Regions from separate parts of the Homo sapiens genome. Here regions 2, 3 and 4 are each linked to region 1. Evidence: fine-mapped expression QTL. A gene starts in region 1. Each other region holds a variant in brackets. All regions are shown on one strand. Distances are from middle to middle.

Evidence for each region. PIP is the estimated chance that this variant, and not a neighbour inherited with it, causes the effect. A credible set is the group of variants that fine-mapping cannot tell apart.
Region 2: its variant is the best candidate, but not a certain one, in a credible set for the expression of GNA12 in B cells (Fairfax 2012, PIP 0.59).
Region 3: its variant is the best candidate, but not a certain one, in a credible set for the expression of GNA12 in whole blood (TOPMed, PIP 0.62).
Region 4: its variant is the best candidate, but not a certain one, in a credible set for the expression of GNA12 in whole blood (TOPMed, PIP 0.87).

What each region holds. Positions count from the first base shown.
Region 1 is chr7:2,841,607-2,846,752 of GRCh38, reverse strand. GNA12 (G protein subunit alpha 12) reads left to right here and starts at 2,445. Exons shown (of 4, transcript NM_007353.3): 1 at 2,445-2,900. The coding sequence starts at 2,592. RefSeq lists enhancers at 1,952-2,081, 2,064-2,358, 2,321-3,138 and silencers at 2,252-2,581, 2,922-2,971.
Region 2 is chr7:2,717,755-2,722,900 of GRCh38, reverse strand. It overlaps AMZ1 (archaelysin family metallopeptidase 1), which reads right to left. Exons shown (of 7, transcript NM_001384743.1): 7 at 3,218-5,146. Among named protein-coding and RNA genes, the nearest start is that of AMZ1, 32 kb to the right of the region's middle. The variant T/C (reference allele first, on the strand shown) is at 2,573.
Region 3 is chr7:2,769,511-2,774,656 of GRCh38, reverse strand. The region is part of intron 2 of GNA12 (G protein subunit alpha 12); the gene reads left to right. Among named protein-coding and RNA genes, the nearest start is that of GNA12, 72 kb to the left of the region's middle. RefSeq lists an enhancer at 1,681-1,730 and a silencer at 3,067-3,211. The variant A/G (reference allele first, on the strand shown) is at 3,218.
Region 4 is chr7:2,791,223-2,796,368 of GRCh38, reverse strand. GNA12 (G protein subunit alpha 12) reads left to right here. Exons shown (of 4, transcript NM_007353.3): 2 at 1,226-1,441. Among named protein-coding and RNA genes, the nearest start is that of GNA12, 51 kb to the left of the region's middle. The variant C/G (reference allele first, on the strand shown) is at 2,515.

The DNA of each region.
Region 1 (5,146 bases):
GATCTGCCCACCTCAGCCTCACAAAGTGCTGGGATTACAGCCTCACAAAGTGCTGGGATTACATGGTGTGAGCTACCATGCCAGACCTAGTATTTGGCCTTCCCGTTTTTGTTTTTTTTTTTTTGTTTTTTTGAGGCAGAGTTTTGCTCTTGTTGCCCAGGCTGGAGTGCAATGGTGCGATCTCGGCTCACTGCAACCTCCGCCTCCCGGGTTCAATCAATTCTCCTATCTCAGCCTCCCCAGTAGCTGGGATTACAGGCGCCCGCCACCACACCCAACCAAGTTTTGTATTTTTTAGTAGCGACAGGGTTTCGCCATGTTGGCCAGGCTGGTCCTGAACTCCTGACCTTAGATAATCTGCCTGCCTTGGCCTCCCAAAGTGCTGGGATTACAGGCATGAGCCACCGTGCCCAGCCATATTTGGCCTCCTATGGGAGGTCATTTCCACAAACAAGCAAGACTTTCTAATCATTTTCCAAGGATTACAAAATCTTGACTCATAAGTGATACAAATTCATGGCATGATTTGTAGTATTTGTAGCAAGTGACAAATAATACATATTATGTGCATTCAAGGTTGTCAGGGAGTTGGTTTTTGTTTTGTTTTGTTTCTGAAACAGGGTCTTGCTCCGTTGTCCAGGCTGGAGTACAGTGGCACGATCATAGGTCACTGCACCCTTGACCTCCTGGGCTCAAGTGATCCTCCCACCTCAGCATCTCAAACTGCTGGGACTGTAGTTGTGAGTCACCGTGCCCAGCCTTCTGGGGAGTTTAGATCTGTGACTAAGCAAAAAGAACAAATCTGGAGGCATCACTTTACCTGACTTCAAACTATACTATAAGGCTATCGTCACAAAAACAGCATGGTACTAATATAAAAATAGGCACAGAGACCAATGGAACATAATAGAGAACCCAGAAATGAAGCCAAATACTTACAGCCAACTGATCTTCAACAAAGCAAATGAAAACAAAGTGGGGAAAGGACAGCCTATTCAGCAAATGGTGCTGAGATAATTGGCAAGCCACATGTAGAAGAATAAAACTGGATCCTCGTCTCTCACGTTATACAAAAATCAACTCAGGATAGATCAAAGACTTAAATCTACAACCTGAAACCATAAACATTCTAGAAGATAACATCGGAAACATCCTTCTAGACGTTGGCTTAGGCAAAGACTTTGTGACCAAGAACCCAAAAGCAAATGCAACAAAAACAAAGATAAATAGATGGGACTTAATTAAACTAAAAAGCTTCGGCACTGCAAAAGAAATAATCAGCAGAGTTAACAGACACCGCACAGAGATTGGACTTTGGGGACTCAGGGTAAAAGGTGGGGGGTGGCGAGAGATAAAAGACTACACACTGGGCCAGGCGCGGCGGCTCACGCCTTTAATCTTAAGGGATACCTGAGCTCCTTCTAGGAGGTTCTGATTCAGTAGATCTGGGAGAGTCAAGAATCTGTAATCAGCTGATCTCTATCAAGAGCTGATTTTGGGCTAGCTCACGTGCTAAGTGTTTGGTAAGTTCATGTTCTCAGTTTATATCTTCATGACGATTTGAGCAATGTCAAGCCATAACCAATGTCGTCAATGACACCCCCGTTTTACAGATGAGGAAACGGAAGCTAAGAACATCCAAAAGGGTTTGTTGGGGGGGGTGGGGAAAGCTGCTAAAAAAAGTTATGCAACTAGTACACCTAGTAACTGGTCGACTGGAGATTCCAACTCAGGCCCAGCAACTCCAGACCCCACTCTCTCAATCACTGTGAGACATAAGACTTTTGGGGGAGCTTCTGGTGATTTTAGTGATTAGTCAGCTTTTCGCAAAGCCTCCTAGAAGCCCATGCCACTCTCAAAGGGTGCATGTGTTTGAAATTTATGGCCCATCCCCCTCCAGTGTTTCTGGAAGGAAAATAGTGTAGAAACAAGATCATCGGAGGGAATACGACGAGCAGCTGAACCTCTTATCAGCATTTCCCAGCCTTTGGGCTACTCCGCGAGGTCCTGGTCTCACAGGCGGACCCAATCTGGGAACCAAGGGAGAATCTTTCTGTACACCTGGCACTTCTCGTCACGCCCCGTCCCCCGAACACCCAATCCAAAGCCCGTTGGGCACGTCTGATGTCCACTCAGAGCAATTATAATTGGCCATGGCGGACGATCGCTCCGCCTCCCGGGCGACCCCGCCTCCCTTTCATTCTGAAAGAAAGAACCTCAGCCTGGGCGTCCAATGAGAAGCGCCTTCACCTCAAAGATCCCGCCTCTTTCGGCGTCGACCCCGCCCCGAGGCCGGAAGGGATGCCCGCCTCCCTTGGCGAGATGAGCCAATCGAAGGGCTCTCACGGCCAGATGGACGGCAGCCGGCCCAATCCGCCGGGCCTCACGCGGCGCCGCCCGCCCCTCCGCCGGGCCCGAGTGGCGGCCGGGCGACGAGTGCGGGCCTCGGAGCGACTGCAGCGGCGGCGGCGGACGCGGCCTGAGGCGAGCGGCGGGGCGTGGGGCGGTGCCTCGGCCCGGGCTCGCCCTCGCCGGCGGGAGCGTCCATGGCCCCCGGGCGCCGGCGGGGCGCGGCCGCGGCCTGAGGGGCCATGTCCGGGGTGGTGCGGACCCTCAGCCGCTGCCTGCTGCCGGCCGAGGCCGGCGGGGCCCGCGAGCGCAGGGCGGGCAGCGGCGCGCGCGACGCGGAGCGCGAGGCCCGGAGGCGTAGCCGCGACATCGACGCGCTGCTGGCCCGCGAGCGGCGCGCGGTCCGGCGCCTGGTGAAGATCCTGCTGCTGGGCGCGGGCGAGAGCGGCAAGTCCACGTTCCTCAAGCAGATGCGCATCATCCACGGCCGCGAGTTCGACCAGAAGGCGCTGCTGGAGTTCCGCGACACCATCTTCGACAACATCCTCAAGGTGACGCGCGCCCCCCGCCCAGCACCTGCACCCAGGTGGGCCGGGGCGCTAACCCCCGCCCCGGGCCCCTCCGTGGTCCGCCGCCGCGGGCGGGGACCCCTGGGGCGAGGATGCTGGATCCAGCCCCGCCTGCACCCCACTCCCCCCCGACCCATTCCCCGAGGCCTGCTGGCGTCGTCTCTGCCCCACCCCGTCTCGCCCTTTTTGAGATGGGGTCTCGCTGTGTTTCCCAGGCTTGAGTGCAGTGGCGCCCTCACAGCTCACTGCAGCCTCGACCTCCCAGGCTCAAGCCCTACTCCCTCCTTAGCCTCCCGAAGTAGTGGGATTACAGGCGCGCACCACCAGCCCAGCTAATTTTTAAGTTTTTTTTTGTAGAGATGGGGTCTTGCTGTGTTGCCCAGGCTGGTCTCAGTCTCCTGGCCTCAAGTGATCCTCCTGCCTTGGTCTCCCTCAAGTGCTGGGATTATAGGCATGAGTCATGGCGCCCGGTCTGCCTCTGCCCTCTCTAGGGTGCCTGGGGACCGTGGGAGTGGGAACTCGGGCCAGCTTCTGGGGATGGGGAGTGGGGGCTTGGCACTTAGCCCCCTCCTGGATGTGCCCTAGCAGAATGGTATCTGTCCATTTCCCACTGGAAGATTTGTGGGATAGGAGCCCAACCGGCCGTGCCCTCCGGCTGAGCTTAGAAGAAGAGCAGTGGAGACTGGACGGGAACCAGCCATGAGTCTCTTTTTACTTTTCTGTTTTTTTAGAAAGGCTCTCACTCTCTTGCCCAGGCTGGTCTCAAGCCATCCTCCCACCTGGGCCTCCCAAAGTGCTGAGATTACAGGTGTGAGCCACACTTTCTAATACGAAAACTTCAAATGTATACAAAAGTAGAGAAAATAGTAGATTGACTGTAAAGTACCTACAGCCCAACTAAAGCAGTCATCAATTCTGTGCCAATCCTATTCACCTGTGCCCTCCCCATGGTCTCCAAGCAAATCCAACTTTGTGTAGTTGGATTAGGAAACGTTTTAGGATGTATATGAGTGGCTAAAAGATGAGGCCTCCATGTAAAAACACAACCGCAGTACCATTAGCAAACCTAAACATTAGTAATAGCTCATTATCACCAGATATCCAGTGTTCAGAATTCCTCCATTGTGGCATAATTGTTTTGTGTGACTCGACATGCATTGCAATGAATCTCCAGATTCTCCTGTCTCTTGCTTCCTTTTTTCTCTTCGCCATATTTGTGAAAGAAGCTGTAGAAGTCGGCCAGGTGTGATGGCTCGTGCCTGTAATCCCTGCACTTTGGGAAGCTGAGGCAGGAGGATCACTTGAGGCCAGAAGTTTGAGACCAACCTGGGCAACACAGCAAGACCTCAGTGCCACAAAAATGAACACATTAGTTGGGCATGGTGGAATGCACCTGTAGTCCCAGTTGCTTGAGCGGCTGAGGTAGGAGAATTGGTTGAGCCTGGGAGGTTGAGGCTGCAGTGAGCCATGTTTGGGCCACTGCACTCCAGCCTGAGTGGCAGTGAAAAAAAATAAAAGAACCATAGAGTTGATAAAGTCGGGGTTCCAGTCTCTCAGTACCGTGAGCCTGTGTTAAAGGGCCTCAAGGAAGATCTGGAGGAAACTGATGATGAGGGAACAGTGCAGCCTTGCTTACACCTAGATAGCGTCCTTTGTCCTCCCTCCCTTTTTCCTTCCTTCCTTTCCTTCTTTTCTTTCCTTCCTTTCTTTTCTTCCTCCCTTCCCTTCCTTCCTTTCCTTCCTTTCCTTCCCGCCTTCCTTTTCTTCCTTTCTTTCTACCTTCCTTCCTTTTTTCTTTTCTTCCTTCCTCCCTTCCTTTCTCCCTCCCTCCCTACCTCTCTACCCTTTCCTTGTCCCCTCACCACTTTTTCCCCAGCCCATTTTGGGGAAACCAAGTTAGAGGCGAGGACAATCATCTCAAAGCAGAGTCGGAGAGAAGTTTGCCATGCCAGAAAACCTGCCTGGAGACTAGGTTTTATGGTGCCTGGGAGATTTTAAATTTAGCAAAGCCCCGTAGAAACCTATCGGGTACATTTGTATCACTTACCCATAAGGACTCCTGCCTCAGCCCTAGAGATGAAGTGACTCCTTCCTGGGGTCTCTGTGCTGGAATCCTGGCCTCCAGACTTCCAGGCCAGTATTCGCACTTGACATACTTCTCATGGAAATGTTTCATTTTAATAGAGCTCCTTTAGGATTGTGAAGGGAAGAAAATAATTTGATAAAAC
Region 2 (5,146 bases), 120 kb after region 1:
GCTCAAGCAGTCCTCCCACCTTGGCCTTCCAAGTAGCTGGGACCACAGGCATGTGGCCACCACCCGCACCTGGCTAATTTTTAAATTTTGTATAGAGATGGAGTCTCACTGTGTTGCCCAGGCTGGTGTTGAACTCTTGGCCTCAAGTGATCCTCCCACCTCAGCCTTCCTGAAGTGCTGGGATTACAGGCATGAGTCGCTGCACCCAGTCTGGGTTCTTAACAAGCCTATGCAAAATTTAAAATCTCTGTTGCATCTGTCAGTCTCGAATCTCAAAAAATTACCTTTTGACCTGTCAGGCAAATTGGTTTAAAACATTCAAAATGTCCTGGCTGGGCACGGTGGCTCACGCCTGTAATCCCAGCACTTGGGGAGGCTGAGGCGGATGGATCACGAGGTCAGGAGATCGACACCATCCTGGCTAACACGGTGAAACCCCGTCTCTGCTGAAATATAAAAAATTAGCCGGGCATGGTGGCGGGCGCCTGTAGTCCCGGCTACTTGGGAGGCTGAGGCAGGAGAATGGCATGAACCCGGGAGGCAGAGCTTGCAGTGAGCCGAGATCGCGCCACTGCACTCCAGCCCAGGCGAGAGAGCGAGAGTCTGTCTCAAAAAAAAAAAAAAAATTCGAAATGCCCTTTTTCTTAACTCCATTTGAACCAGCTCACATCGATGGGCACAAGCGTCGCCAGGAAATTCAGTGTGGTAAGCTTGGCACCTACTCATGGCCACCGTGTCCTGAACTCCCTTTCCTGTGCTCAGGCCCCAGCCCACGCAGCAGGAGGACACACTGCCGAAGGGACCAGTTGGACGGCCTTCTGGCTTTAGCGCCTGTGCCTTTCAGGACCTTAAATACAGAAAGGAACCGAGTGCTCTGTGCAGCCCCTCCAAGACGGTCGCTACAGCGCCAGCACCACCTGCGCCGGGCCATCATGCCGTGACCGGACTTGGTTTACGAATACAGTGTACGAGGTTAAGATATGATAAAGTGTAAAAATATATGTTATAGCCACGGTGGTTAGTTTAACATGTTTTGTATATATGATTTTTATAAATCTATTAAAATGTGCCTTAAATTACACCTGTTTTCCTGGCGTGTTATGTCCCTGCCTCCCCCGCCACTGCTGAGAAGTGGGGGGCCCCTGAGTGTGGCACCCACCCGCCGCTATCTTTTTTTTTTTTTTTGAGACGTAGTCTCGCTCTGTTGCCCAGGTTGGAGTGCAGTGTCGCGATCTCGGCTCACTGCAACCTCCACCTCCCAGGTTCACACCATTCTCCTGCCTCAGCCTCCCAAATAGCTGGGACTACAGGCATCTGACACCACACCTGGCTAATTTTTTGTATTTTTAGTAGAGACAGGGCTTCACCGTGTTAGCGAGGATGGTCTCGATCTCCTGACCTCGTGATCCACCCACCTCAGCCTCCCAAAGTGCTGGGATTACAGTGACCCACTGCGCCCAGCCCACCTACTGCTTTCAAACAGAAGAATGTGTGTGGCAGTGGATTCTGCAGCATGCGTCGCATCCACGGGCTTCCAGAGTGCGTTCCACCGTGGGGCAAGCACCTTTCCCGAAGCAGAGGCCTCCTCACATCTTCCACACATCTGCGGTGCGCGGCAGGAGAGTGAGGTGAGCGCTCAGCACAGGGCCCGGCTCAGGCCTTAGTCCCTGTGCTTCCACTCCTGAGCTCCACCCTCCCCTGGCCTTTCCATCCCTCCCAGGCACAGGCGTCCTGGGTTGCTCTTCCTCCCGGCATTGGCAGGAACCTCCCGCGCCACCCAGTGTGTCTTCAATAGAGTCGGTCGTTTTGCAGCTGCTGGTCGCCACCACCAGACCTGTGGGCGTAAGGCAGGCAGCCAGCGATGACAGCCCGCAGGGTCACACAGGAAACATGCTGTGACATTCGTATAAACAGAAATAACGGGCTGGGCGTGGTGACTCACACCTGTAATCCAGGCACTTCGTGAGCCCGAGGCAGTAGGATTGCCTGAGCCCAGGAGTTCAAAACCAGCCTGGGCAACGTGGCTGAAACCCTGTCTCTACCAAAAACAAGTTTTTAGTTAGCTCAGTGTAGAGATACACACCTGTAGTCCAGCTACTTAGGAGGCTGAGGCAGGAGAGTCGCTTGAGCCCAGGCATTTGAGATAAGCCTGGGCAACATAGCAAGACCCCTGTATCTAAAATAATTTTTTTTTTTTAAAGGCTGGGCGCAGTGGCTCACACCTATAATCCCAGCATTTTGGGAGACTTCGGTGTTTCACTTGAGGTCAGGAGTTCAAGACCAGCCTGGCCAGCACGGTAAAACCCCGTCTCTACTAAAAAATACAAAAATTAGCCAGGCTTGGTGGCAGGCGCCTGTAGTCCCAGCTACTTGGGAGGCTGAGACAGGAGAATCGTTTGAACCCAGAAGGCGGAGGTTGCAGTGAGCCAAGATCGCACCACTGGACTCCAGCCTGGGCAACACAGACTCTGTCTCAATAAATAAAAATTCAAAAAAATAATGATCCCCTCCAGCCCCCAAAACACACACTAGTCTTTCTCTTTTTGTCACAGCGCATAAAAAGTGTTCACCC[T/C]GACGTGGGGAGACATGGAAACGGGGAGTGAACATTTGTGAAGTGACTCTTCATTTGACAGGTGTTTTAAAAGCCTCCAGCAGTGACTAAGTGTTTGTGGATGGGCGTCCGCGTGGGTAGATGAACCGGTCCATGTCAGCAGAGGAGCCGAGTCTCAGAGGGGAGCCGCGCTTTGCACGGAAAGCTCTGCAGCAGTGCGTGGCAGCCCTGTCGGTAGGTTCCCGTCGGCTCCTTGCCTTCTCAAATGCAAGGAATTGCTTATCGAATTCAACAGACACATTCTCTTTTCATTTAGCCTTCCAGAATTTCATCCTCTTCGTTTAAGCCCTTTTTAAAATTTGGAGTTGAGGCTGGGCACGGTGGCTGACGCCTGTAATCCTGGCACTTTGGGAGGCCAAGGCGGGTGGATCACGAGGTCAGGAGTTTGAGACCAGCCTGGCCAAGGTGATGAAACCCCATTTCTACTAAAAATACAAAAATTAGCCGGGCATGGTGTGGCAGGCACCTGTAATCCCATCTACGTGGGAGGCTGAGGCAGGAGAATCGCTTGAAACTGGAAGGCAGAGGTTGCAGTGAGCCAAGATCACACCATTGCACTCCAGGCTGGGCAACAAGAGCGAAACTCCATCTCAAAAAAAAAAAAAATTGGGGTTGATAGCATTTATTAATTTTGAGAATGAAAATGTAAGATGTAAGCATTATAGAAAAGCTGAGTAACAATTTATTTTGTATATCAAAGTCGTCCATCAGTCATTGCAGTATAAAATGTTCCAGGTGTATTTCCACTTGGACTGGATTTTTAAAAATAACTGTGCCATACAATCGAGCGGTGATCAAAGCTCATGTAATTAGGGCTAAGTCGTTCCCGTTGGGAGAGGCTATTGTGGGACTTGTGCGTCGGGCCAAGGGATGCTCTGGGCTCTGCTGTTGGAGCAGAGGAGGGAGCTCTGCCAGGCGCGCGGGCCTTTGCCCTCTTTAGGCATTGCTCCTGCTTGGGGGTCCGTGACAGACATCAGGTTATGCCATCAAGAGCCCCACGTGAAACAACTGCCTCCAAGTGGTGCAGGCGGGAGAGGCGGCCGGAGGATGGCAGGAATAAAGAGACACCCCCCTTCCGACAGGGGCCACCTGCCGTTCTGTCGGAGGAGTTGGGTTGGCAGCCGACAAAGCTGCTGCCCGCATCCTGCCCATCCAGTAAAGGCCTCGAGCCCTCACAAGGGGGCGCCCAAGAGGACGGCCACCACCCACCCAGAAGGGCACAGGTAGAATGTGGTAGAAGTTTGATCTCACTTCAGATGGGGGGGAAAAAAAAAAAAAAAAGTCGCCTGTTCTTGCAGCTTCCCTCCCTCTTTCCTTCCTGCTCATACATTTGGAATAAATGGCCGGAGCTCTCCTGTACCCCTGCCTGTGTTAAGCGACCCTGAGAAAAGCGTGTTCTCTGCCTCTTCCAACCCACTCCGTTTCCCGTGGTTTCTGTGACTCCCCTGTTCCCAGAGGCCTACCCCAGGTGGGCAGAGCACAGGGAGAGGAAGTCCCTGAGAGCCGGACGCAGCTCGGCCCTGGCCTGCCCGCTTCTCCCTGACCACAAGACCAAGCCCGGCTGCACAAGCCCTGTCCTGTTAGAAGGGACAGTGGAGCTCCTACGTGAGAAAGTGTTGGAAGAAATGGTGAAGAGTCCACTGCCTTCTGCTGCTGAAAGCCTGACCGAGAGGGGCGTCGGCTTCAGACTGGACCCCACACTGCCCCCGGGAGCCGTCAGCCGCGCTCATCACCTTCGTCCACGTGCCAGGTGAGTGGGCGCCCGCGGCTGCCACCAGCGTCCAAGAGTCAGGGCTGAACAAAACACGTCCCCATTCATTCCCGCTGGTCACAGACCACTGAAGGAGGCCCACGAGACAGACTCACAAAGCGCGGTGAGGGCCCTTGAACGGGAGATGGTCTTGGACTCGAGAAAGACGTGTTGGCCTTTGCTGAGAAGGGGCGGTTCAGTCATGCTGTATCCAGAAAACCAGGCACACTGTGGCGGGCAGAGCACCCTGCCTGAGAGAGAAAATGGACACTGGGCCCACAGTCAGGAGAGCCAGAGCTCTCGGCATCAGAGGAGCCCCAGGGTGGAGCCACGTGACTCCATGCCGGGCTCAGTTTCCATGTGACAGAAGTGCGTTCATTAAAAAGCCCAGGGAGCAGGCATCGAGGGAGGCCTCAGTGGTGGAATCTGGTAGGTGTCGTCTCTGGTTAATCTTGCGAGAGCTCGGGCCCCTCTCAGAGAGGGCAGGAGGTTGGACGGGCCTGGCTGCCGCGGACCCTCTGAGGGCCATTGTGGAGCCGCCGGGGGAGGCAGGGGCCGCCGTGTTTGCTCGACTCCGGTGACTATTTGGATTTGCCTCATCGTCACGGGAACACTGCAGCGGGGAAGAGTTGGACTGAACGCGTGGTGACCCCAGGACGCTTCTTGGAAATTGCTTTTTAAAATAAACCCCTGACATCAGCCTGTTTTCATTTGCCTCCCTACCCAAGAAGCTGAGTTCAAAAATAAACCTCCATTCTTCCGGGTTCTCATTCATCAAGGTGCTG
Region 3 (5,146 bases), 72 kb after region 1:
GTTCTCAAACCTTGTACTTTTTTTGACCCTTATATCATTAAAGCATTCGACACATTAGCAACCTGGACCCCCCCTTTGCCTCGGCAAGCCCATCTCCTGCTCCCCTCCTCTCTGTCACTGCTGCAGGCGCACTGGCCTTCCTGCTGCTCCCTGCACACTCAGGGCCTCCCAGCGCCATCAGGGCCCTTGTGCTTGCTGTTCCTTCTGCCTGGAATGCACTTCCTCCTTTATCTCATCAAGGTTTTGACTCAGATGTTATCTTCATGAAATCTTACCTGACAATCTTGATTAAAGTCAAAACCGCACCCACCACTACCTATTACCTTTCCCTATTTCATTTAAAAAATGTTTTTATTGGAGAATTACATATATATACACACATATATATGCATGCATGTGTGTATATATGCATATACATGTATAGAAATAAAAGTGCATCTATATTAACTCAGTTTTCACAAACTGAGCAGATTGTGTGACCTGCCGCCAGCTCAGGAAACAATGACCTGTGCCCCAGAACCCCTTTCATCTTCACACCACCTTCTGCTCTCCAGAAGTAACCAGTTCTGACCGTGAACACCAGCTGTTCTGTAGAATGGGTATTTCTGCGTTGCTGCTTCATCTGTGGCCTCACACGGTATTTACTCCTGTGTTACTGGCTCCTTCTCGTCGCCATTTCGTTTTGTGCGGTTCTTCCAATTCTGCGGCACGTTCTTCCTTGTTGCTGCATGGTAATTCCATTTTGTGAATGTCCCGCAATTTAGTTCCCTGCCCTCCTGGTGATGGGCGTCCGGGTAGACGCCAGCTCAGCGTCATTACAAAAATGTTACTGTAGGTATTCAAGAACCTGTCTTTTGGTGAAGAGATGTAGGCATTTCCCTCAGGGCTGTCCAGGGGTGGACTTGCTGGGGCATCCAGGTGTGCCTGGGTTCAGTGTTCATGGATTTTTCACAGTGTTTGTATTTGTGCTCTACCAGCAGAGGCCAAGTTCCCATTACTCCACCTCATCACCAGTGCTTGTCCTCTTTTTCAAATAGCCATTCTGGTGGCCGTGTAGAGGTATCTCATTCTGGTTTTGTTTGTTTGTTTATTTTTGAGACTGAGTCTCACTCTGTCGCCCTGGCTGGAGTGCAGTGGTGTGATTTTGGCTCACTGCAGCCTCTGCCTCCCGGGTTCAAGCAATTCTCCTGCCTCAGCCTCCCGAGTAGCTGGGATTACAGATGCCCACCACCACGCCTGGCTAATTTTTGTATTTTAGTAGAGAAGGGGTTTTGCCATGTTGGCCAGGCTGGTCTCAAACTCCCAACCTCAGGTGATCACCCATGTCGGCCTCCCAAAGTGCTGGGATTACAGGCGTGAGCCACCGCCCCCAGCCTTGTTTATTTGTTTTAATTGAAGTATAATTTCTGTGTGCAAAATGCACAAATCTTAGGTGTATACAACACAATGAGATTTACGTATGTATCTACTCACACAGCCACCACCCACGTGAAAGAACATTTCAGCATCCAAGAAAGTCCCTCCCGCTGCTTCCCCATTGATACCACTCCTCCTGGTGACCACGCTAGTTTCACTTCCATCACTGTAGATTAGTGTTTTGCCTGTTTTTGAAGTTTGTTTAAATGGAATCGTTTAGCTGGCTTCTTTGCTTAATGACTGAGAGATTCATCTGTGTTGCTACGTGGATTGGTATTTTCTTCTTTTTTCTTTATAGCCTTCCATTAAATGAATACACCATAATTTATTTCTTCTCCTGTTCACAGACATGGTGTTTGTTTCTCGTTTTTGGCTACTGTGAGTAAAGCTGCTTTGAACATTCTTGGACAGGTCTCTTAATGGATATATGCACTGATTTCTCTTGGAAATATACCTAGGAGTGGGATTGCTGGGTTTGCCAACTATTTCTCCAAACTGGCCGTACTGGTTTATAGTCTCTCCAGCAGTGTGGGACAGTTAGTCCACGTTCTAACCAACACTTGGCATTGTCCTCTTGATTTTAAGCCTCCTGGTGGGTATCAATTGATGTTTTACTTTGCATTTCTAAGTAAGAACTTTCCTGACTAAATAAGTTTGGCACCTTTTTCTTTTTTTTTTTTTGAGATGGAGTCTCACTCTGTTGCCCAGGCTGGAGTGCAGTGGTGCGATCTTGGCTCACTGCAAGCTCCGCCTCCTGGGTTCACGCCATTCTCCTGCCTCAGCCTCCCAAGTAGCTGGGACTACAGGTGCCCACCACCACGCCCGGCTAATTTTTTGCATTTTTAGTAGAGACGGGTTTCACCATTTTAGCCAGGATGGTCTCGAGCTCCTGACCTCGTGATCCGCCTGCCTCTGCCTCCCCAAGTGCTGGGATTACAGGCGTGAGCCACTGCACCCAGCATGTTTGGCACCTTTTGTACATCTGTTGGCCAGTGGGATATCCTCTTCTATAACAGGTTTGTGCAAATCTTTTGCCCTGTTGGGTTGTTGGTCATTTTCTTGGGAATTCTCGATATGAGTCCTTTGTCAGATTATCCGGAATATGTAAAGAACTCTCAAAACTCAAGAAAACAATTTTTTTAAAAGGACAAAAGATTTGAACAAAGAAGAGATTCCTGAAGCAAATAACACATGAAAAGATGCTCAGTCGACGTCATCAGTCATGACACACATGCAGTTGAACACCGTGGTGAGACACCACATGCTCTCCTAGGAGGCTGCCCTTTGGAAGGCGACCACCCAAGGCACAGTGAGGGCGGGGGTGGGAACTCAGGCTCTCACACACCCCTGGTAGAAATGTGAAATGGTACTCCTGCTTTGGAAAAGCGGGGCACTTTCTTAAAAGTTAAACATACAATTATCACATGAGCTAGCCCTTCCACATGTAGATATTTACCAAAGAGAAGTGAAAATATTTGTCCACACAAAGACTTGCACACACATGTTTATGGCAGCTGAACATTGGGAACGTGGCCATCAACAAGCAGATGGATGAACAGACTGGGGTGCACCCTTCTGTGGGGATACTGCTCAGCCAGGAAAGGGAGCACCTGGTAACCTGCAGCATATGGGCGAATCTGGAAAGAATTGTGCCAAGTGCAGGAGGCCACACAAAGAAGGGAGTGTCCTCTAAGATCTGACTTACATGAGAATCTAGAATATGCAGACCAACATGGAGGGATAGATGCCGACCACGGGTTGCCTGGGCAGGAAGGGAGTGCAGGGGAGGGGAAGGGCTGAT[A/G]AGGCCACAGTGGGAGTTGTTTGGGTGTTTGCTCATGATCTTGGCTGTTATGATGGTCCCACAGCTGTATGCATATGTCAGAAGTCATCAGACTGGGCAAGTTCACTATGTGCGGTTTCGTTTTTTTGGTTTTTTGGTTTTTTTTGAGTGGCAGGGAGTCTTGCTCTGTCGCCCAGGCTGAAGTACAGTGGCGACATGTCAGCTCACGGCAACCTCCACCTCCCAGGTTCAAGCGATTCTCCTGCCCCGGCCTCCCGAGTAGCTGGGATTATAGGTGCCTGCCACCTCACCTGGCTAATTTTTGTATTTTTAGTAGAGACGAGGTTTCGCCATGTTGGTCAGGCTGGTCTTGAACTCCTAACTTCAAGTGATCCACCCACCTCAGCCTCCCAAAGTGCTGGGATTACAGGTGTGAGCCACGGCGCCTGGCCTTTTCTTTGATTTTAATAATTTGGTTTACTAAGTCTGTTCCCTGTCCATTTGCTCTGCAAGGAGTCATCAGAGCCTGGCGCTTGCAGTACCCCCAGGTCCACGTTTAGATGATCTTAAAACATTGCCATAATCTTGCACGATGGCCTTGCACTTAGGCAGTGCCAGTATTCCTATGGTATACAGTGAAGGGGCATTCGGTTTCAGTAACTCTGATTTGTAATCGTCCTACGTGGAAACACAAAGCAACAAGCACAGGATCCCATTAGCTCTGCTGCCCAGTGAAGCATCCATGTTGCTTTGTTTTTGTTTGTTCTTTTTCTTTCTTTCTTTCTGTGTGTTGTTTTGTTTTGTTTTGTTGTTGTTATTGTTGTTGAGATGGAGTCTCACTATGTGGCCCAGGCTGGAGCTCAGTGGCTTTTCACAGGCACGCTTATCGTAGCTCACTGCATCCTCAAACTCCTGGGCTCAAGAGATTTCCCCCACTTCAGCCTCCTGGGTAGCTGAGACTACAGGTGTGCACCACCACGCCTAGCTAACTCTAACTTAATCTAATGCCAACTCCAATGGACAAGCATTGCCCTGTCACAAGCCTAGCTGAACTATGTCAGAATTGAACTCTTTGAGCTTGATATGGTTCTAGAGGCTATTGAGCCTCAATTTGAGCCTAAATTTAAAATTGTGTGATCATTTAATTTAATTTCCAAACGGGACATGTTTATAAATAAAACAAGACCCTATTAAACAATTTTGCCAAGATGATTGACTCAAATTGGGACTCTCCAGGGCAAGTGGGGCATATGGTTATCCTGTTTATAGTATATTATGGCAGTGAACCTCAGTAAAGTCATACATTGTAGGTTTGTTTATTTGTTGCTATCTATGCAGTTGAATAATGTTGAGGATATATTTTATTTTCCTCACAGTACCAGGCCAGTCTATAGCTTGAATTGAATCTTAGCTCTGCATGTCACTATGATCTATTTTATTGTAACTTCCTATTATAAACCTTTAATTTTATAAAAGCAATTTTGAAAAAGTACTTGCCCCCCCATGATTTAAAAAAACAAAAACACTTAGACTTAAAATGTAATGACATATCACTTTTCACCCATCAAATTCAGAAAAAAATTCAATTGATAATATCCAGTGTGTTAAGGGTATAAAGAAGTGGGTATCTTAAACCCTTGTTCATTAGGATATAAATTGGTACAACCTTTTTGGGAGAGAATTTGGCCAGAGCTGTGTTTTTTTTGTTTGTTTGTTTTTGTTTTTTCTGAGACAGAGTCTCACTCTCTCACCCAGGCTGGAGTGCGGTGGTGCGATCTCGGCTCACTGCAAGCTCCACCTCCCGGGTTCGTGCCATTGTCCTGCCTCAGCCTCCTGAGTAGCTGGGACTATAGGCGCCTGCCACCACGCCCGGCTAATTTTTTGTATTTTTTTTAATAGAGACGGGGTTTCACCGTGTTGGCCAGGATGGTCTCAATCTCCTGACCTCGT
Region 4 (5,146 bases), 50 kb after region 1:
GAGACAGAAGGAGAGACCATATTTACTTAACTTTCATGACAGTATATTGTTATAATTGTTGTATTTTATTATTAGCTATTATTAATCTCTTACTGTGCCTAATTCATAAATTAAATTAAACTTTAAAAACAATACAGGTAGGGCTTGGTACCGTTCAGACATCCACTGAGGGTCTTGGAACTTATGCCACGGATAAGGGGTGGAGGCTACTATAGTTGTTGTTAAAACATTGTTTTTTTGGCGGGGAGGCTGAGGCGGGCGGATCAGCTGAGGTCAGGAGTTCGAGACCAGGCTGGACAACATGGTGGAACCCCCCTCTCTACTAAAAATACAAAAATTAGCAGTCCGTGGTGGTCTGTAATCTCAGCTAAAAATAAAAAATTAGCCGGGCCTGGTGGCAGGTACCTGTAATCCTAGCTACTTAGGAGGCTGAGGCAGGAGAATTGCTTGAACCTGGGAGGCGGAGGTTGCAGTGAGCCGAGATCACTCCATTGCACTCCAGGCCAGGGCAAAAAGAGTGAAACTCCATCTAAGAAAAAAAAAAAAAAAAAAGTTGTTTTTTTACTGATACACTTCATTTTCCAGTGAAATTTTCTGAAATTGTTGCCACCTCCTCCCCGCCCAGTTGTCTTTTTTCCAGTAGCTTTGCAAATGAATGATAGCAGAAAGCAGACTTCTTTCTGTGGTGCTTATGTACATCTGTTTTCTTTTTTTTCTTTTTTCTTTTCTTTTTTTTTTTTTGAAACAGGGTCTTGCTCTGTTGCCCAGCCTAGAATATAGTGCAGCAATCATAGATAACCGTAGCCTTGACCTCCTGGGCTCAAGCAATCCTCCCCGCTCAGCTGAGACTACAGGTGTGCCACCACCAAGCCCAGCTGTTTTTAATTTGATTTAATTTTTTGTAGAAGCAGGGTCTTGCTCTGTTGCCCAGGCCGGTCTCAGACTCCTGTGTTCCAGCAGTCCTCCCTCTTTGGCCTCCCAAAGGGGAGGCTCACAGTGTGAGCCACTGCTCTCGGCCATGTGCGTCTGTCTTGGTGAGGTTATACTGCTGAGAGTTAAGACTTTCCACATCACAACAAACAAACCAAGAGACAGACTCAGGCTGCACAGCTCAGAGCTTGTGAGTTTTCTGCGTTATGACAATGGATGCCCATTTTGAGCTTCTCTAGCGTGGTTTAGTCTTTGGAATGCAATTAAATCCTCTCTTCTTTCTTTTATTTTCTAGGGCTCAAGGGTTCTTGTTGATGCACGAGATAAGCTTGGCATTCCTTGGCAGTATTCTGAAAATGAGAAGCATGGGATGTTCCTGATGGCCTTCGAGAACAAGGCGGGGCTGCCTGTGGAGCCGGCCACCTTCCAGCTGTACGTCCCGGCCCTGAGCGCACTCTGGAGGGATTCTGGCATCAGGGAGGCTTTCAGCCGGAGAAGCGAGTTTCAGCTGGTGAGTGAGTAGGCCTTCTTGCTGGGCACCTGATAGTGTGTTTTTTACATGACTATTTTGGACCGTTAGTTGAATTTCCTTAAAAACTGTGTAACAGTCCAAGCAAGCTCTAAATCACCGTAAGTTGTAATGATCAACAACCAAAACACGGGATGGAGGCAGATGCTATATAAAAGGCTCAAGAGGGGAAGGAGCAAGAGCCACTCAGGTAAGATCAATAGCTTTCTTCTGGGAATACGGAGGGTTCTTAGAATCATCAGCATTGGCACAACCCGAGAAATTTAGTTTTTTTTAGAGATCTTGTTCATAGTAGGAAATAACACCCCCCACAACAGCTTCCCACTTTGGACCTGTGGGTATGGGCAACTCACGAACGCCTTCAGATCAGCGCCTCGGAAGCAAATCCAACTCCTCCCAGTTGTTCCCTTCAGATTTGTTCCTTTCGTTTTAAGGTCTAAAAACTTCACAAAGCCCAGTTATTTAGATTCATTTGGGGTCTGAATCTATAACCAGAAAATCTGGGGGGTTTTGCCTGTTTGCTTTTTGTTTTTTTCTACCTTTCAAAATTAACCGTATATAAAGTAAAATGTACAATTTTTCTGATAACCAGCATAAATGTGCACAGCTGATATTAATACACACCCAGGGTATCCAGAAATGCCTCTCACTCTCACAGCCGTTTGCCCCCTTAGCACCCAGAGTCAAGTTGAAGTCATGAATCCTTTGCCGTTCTTATGATTTTGCCATAATACCCATTTATTATTTGTAAACACGACAGTCTTGAGTTTTACTGATTCTTAACCTTCATATAAGTCATTTCTTAGTGTATAGTATATATGCTTCTGTGACTTGCCTTTTTCACTCCACATGTTGGAATTTCATCAGGCGAGGCACATAGCAGCGGTTCTTCCCTTTTCACTGCTGTCTGATGCTCCACTGTGGAAAGATACTAGGATCCATTCCTTCTTTCATTGAGGTACTTTTGAACTGTTTTTCATATTTTGCTATTGGAAACGTCTTTTTTTTTCCTTTTTTTTTTTTTTTTTGAGATGGAGTCTCGCGCTGTTGCCCAG[C/G]CTGGAGTGCAGTGGCGCCATCTCAGCTCACTGCAACCTCCACCTCTGGATTCAAGTGATTCTCCCACCTCAGCCTCCCGAGTAGCAGAGACTGTAGGCACCCACCACCACACCAGCTAATTTTTATATTTTTTAGTGGAGATGGAGTTTTACCATGTTGGCCAGGCTGGTCTCGAACTCCTGGCCTCAGGTGATCCACCCGCCTCGGCCTCCCAAAGTGCTGGGATTTCAGGTGTGAGCCACCATGCCCCACCCTATTCATATCTTTTACCCATCCTTTTCCTGCAGAGTAATTTTTATTTTTCTCAATCATCTGAGAGGTGCTATATAGTCTGCTAATAGTCCCCTCAGTTCAATTTCCTTATATTCTTCTCCCAAGTCCCCCTAATGTTAACATCTTAACCACTATACAACTATTAAAACTAAGAAGTTGACATCGGTATGAAAGCATCAATTAACTGTAGACCTTGTCTGAATGTGACCCACCTTTCCTCTTGCGCTCCTGTCCGCTGCTTCCTCTCGCGTCCTGTCCGCTGCTTCCTCTCGCGTCCTGTCCGCTGCTTCCTCTCGCGCTCCTGTCTGCTGGATCCTGGCCTGGAATCCCCCATTGTGTTTAGTCATTGTGTCCCCTTGGTCTCTTGCAGTCCATGATAGCTCCTTGATCTTTCCTTGCCTTTCATGACCTTGACATGTCCAGAGCACTGGCCAGGTATTGTGTAGAATCTTCCTGTTTGGGTTTGTCTGGTATTTTCTCGTCATCAGGATGAGGGGATGCATTTTTTTGGCACAGAAACCGCAGGCGTGCCGTTGAGCCCTGCTCAGATCATCTGATCAGGAAGTGCGTGATATTGTCCAGTGGCTGGTGATGCAAGCCTGGGTTGCTTGGTTGAGGCACTGTTGGCCACCTTTCTCCACTGGGAAGTCAGTATTTTCTCTGTGTTGTTAACACATATCTTAGGGAGATACATTGAGACCCTGCAAATAGCCTGTTTCTCCTCAGGCTTTTGCCTGTAAATGTTAATGTCCTCCAGGGCATCTTAAGGATGACGTTTTTACTAGCCCCTTTCCATCTGCACATTCCTTCTCAAGTTAACTTTAACAGTTAAGGTAAAAGAATCAAAAGAGAGTGGAAGATGTGGTTGCGGTAGAAAGGAAATTTTAATCTCCTAAAGAGCAGGGCTGGAAGAAACAATTGGGAAATACATGTCAGTATCTCAATGTGAAATTGAGGTTTACACCTTTTCCCCATACACTCACAGAGTCTGGGAAAGAAGATTCTCATTCATTTAGAACTTGGATGGAAATTGAGGATTTTCCAAAGAAGGAAGCAGAAGTGTCTGGGGCTGATCGTACTGAGTGAGGCTTCTGTCTGGGATTCGGCATGGTGCAGCAGCTTTGACAGGCTTCTGTCTTTGCCCTGTTCCGTCAGTGCAGGGTGTCAGTGCTGGAAGGGACCTCCCAATTTAGGAAGTCAAGCCCTTGTATTGTCACGACATGGAAGTAAGCCCGTACCAGTTATGCTGTGCCTGAGGCCACATCATCTTGGTAATCACTGTGAGAAATTTGGGCCTCAAAGCCCAGTCTGCTTGTTTCTCCCCTTCTTCACTCATTCATTCATTCATTCTGCATTCATGGATCACCTACTGTGTGAGACCCGGTGCTACATGCTGGGGATATAGCAGTGAAGAAGACCAAACATGAGCCTGTCTCCAGCGAGTGAGCTTTTAATCTAGACGTGCACTTGGCGGGTGATTAGGGTAAGGTGGCCACAGGTGGGTCAGTAGTCGTCCCTTTGGTTCGATCTTATGCTTCAGACCATGAGACTTTGTGAAGATACAGAAAATATACTGTTGTAGTCAGTGATGCATTTGTAAAGTCTGTAATAATCAGATGCAGAGATGATGATGTGAAATTCTTGTTTATTGGGTGGTGGGTGCATGACTGTTATTCCTATACTTTATACATTTGCCCTTCTTTTTATTCTTCAAAAAAAATGATGGAGCATTTTATTAAAATAGCTAGATAGTAGGACCCTAATAGTCGTTGTTGTCAAAATACACAATTACAGCAAAACTGAAAGACCATACCCATCTGAAGTCACCGTTACCAGGGCTCCCTCCCCCACCCCTGCAGTAGACCCTTGTTTCTCTTCCAATCTTTTCCTGAGTGTCAAAGCTTTTCTAGGGCAATGCTTCATCACCTTGTTTTTTGCTTGTCTTTCTTCCCCAGCTGACAGCATTTGACAGTCCCTGTGAAGAGCTGCAGCTGCTTTGAGAATTGCTGTCAGCCAGGTACTAGGCGCCTCCCTGTTCCCTCTGCCGTCTTGCTTTTTCCTGCCATTCCAGTCAGAGATAGAAACAAAAAGAGGAGGAAAAAAGGCTGTGTCTGGTGATTACCTTGTGACGACCCTTTCTCCTCTGAGAGGAGCAGGGTGGGCCGGGGTGGGGGATGGAAATCTTCCCTTTCCATAGGGGAGGCAGCCTGGCCGCCTTCCCCACTGGCCCCTTGCCATGCCTGGCCATTGCTGTCCACTGCTGGTCACAGACAGCAGACACCCCATGAGCATCACTTCTGTGGCTCAGTTAAAAGGAAGATGATCTCGCCATGTTAGACCTTATCTTCCAAAACACAG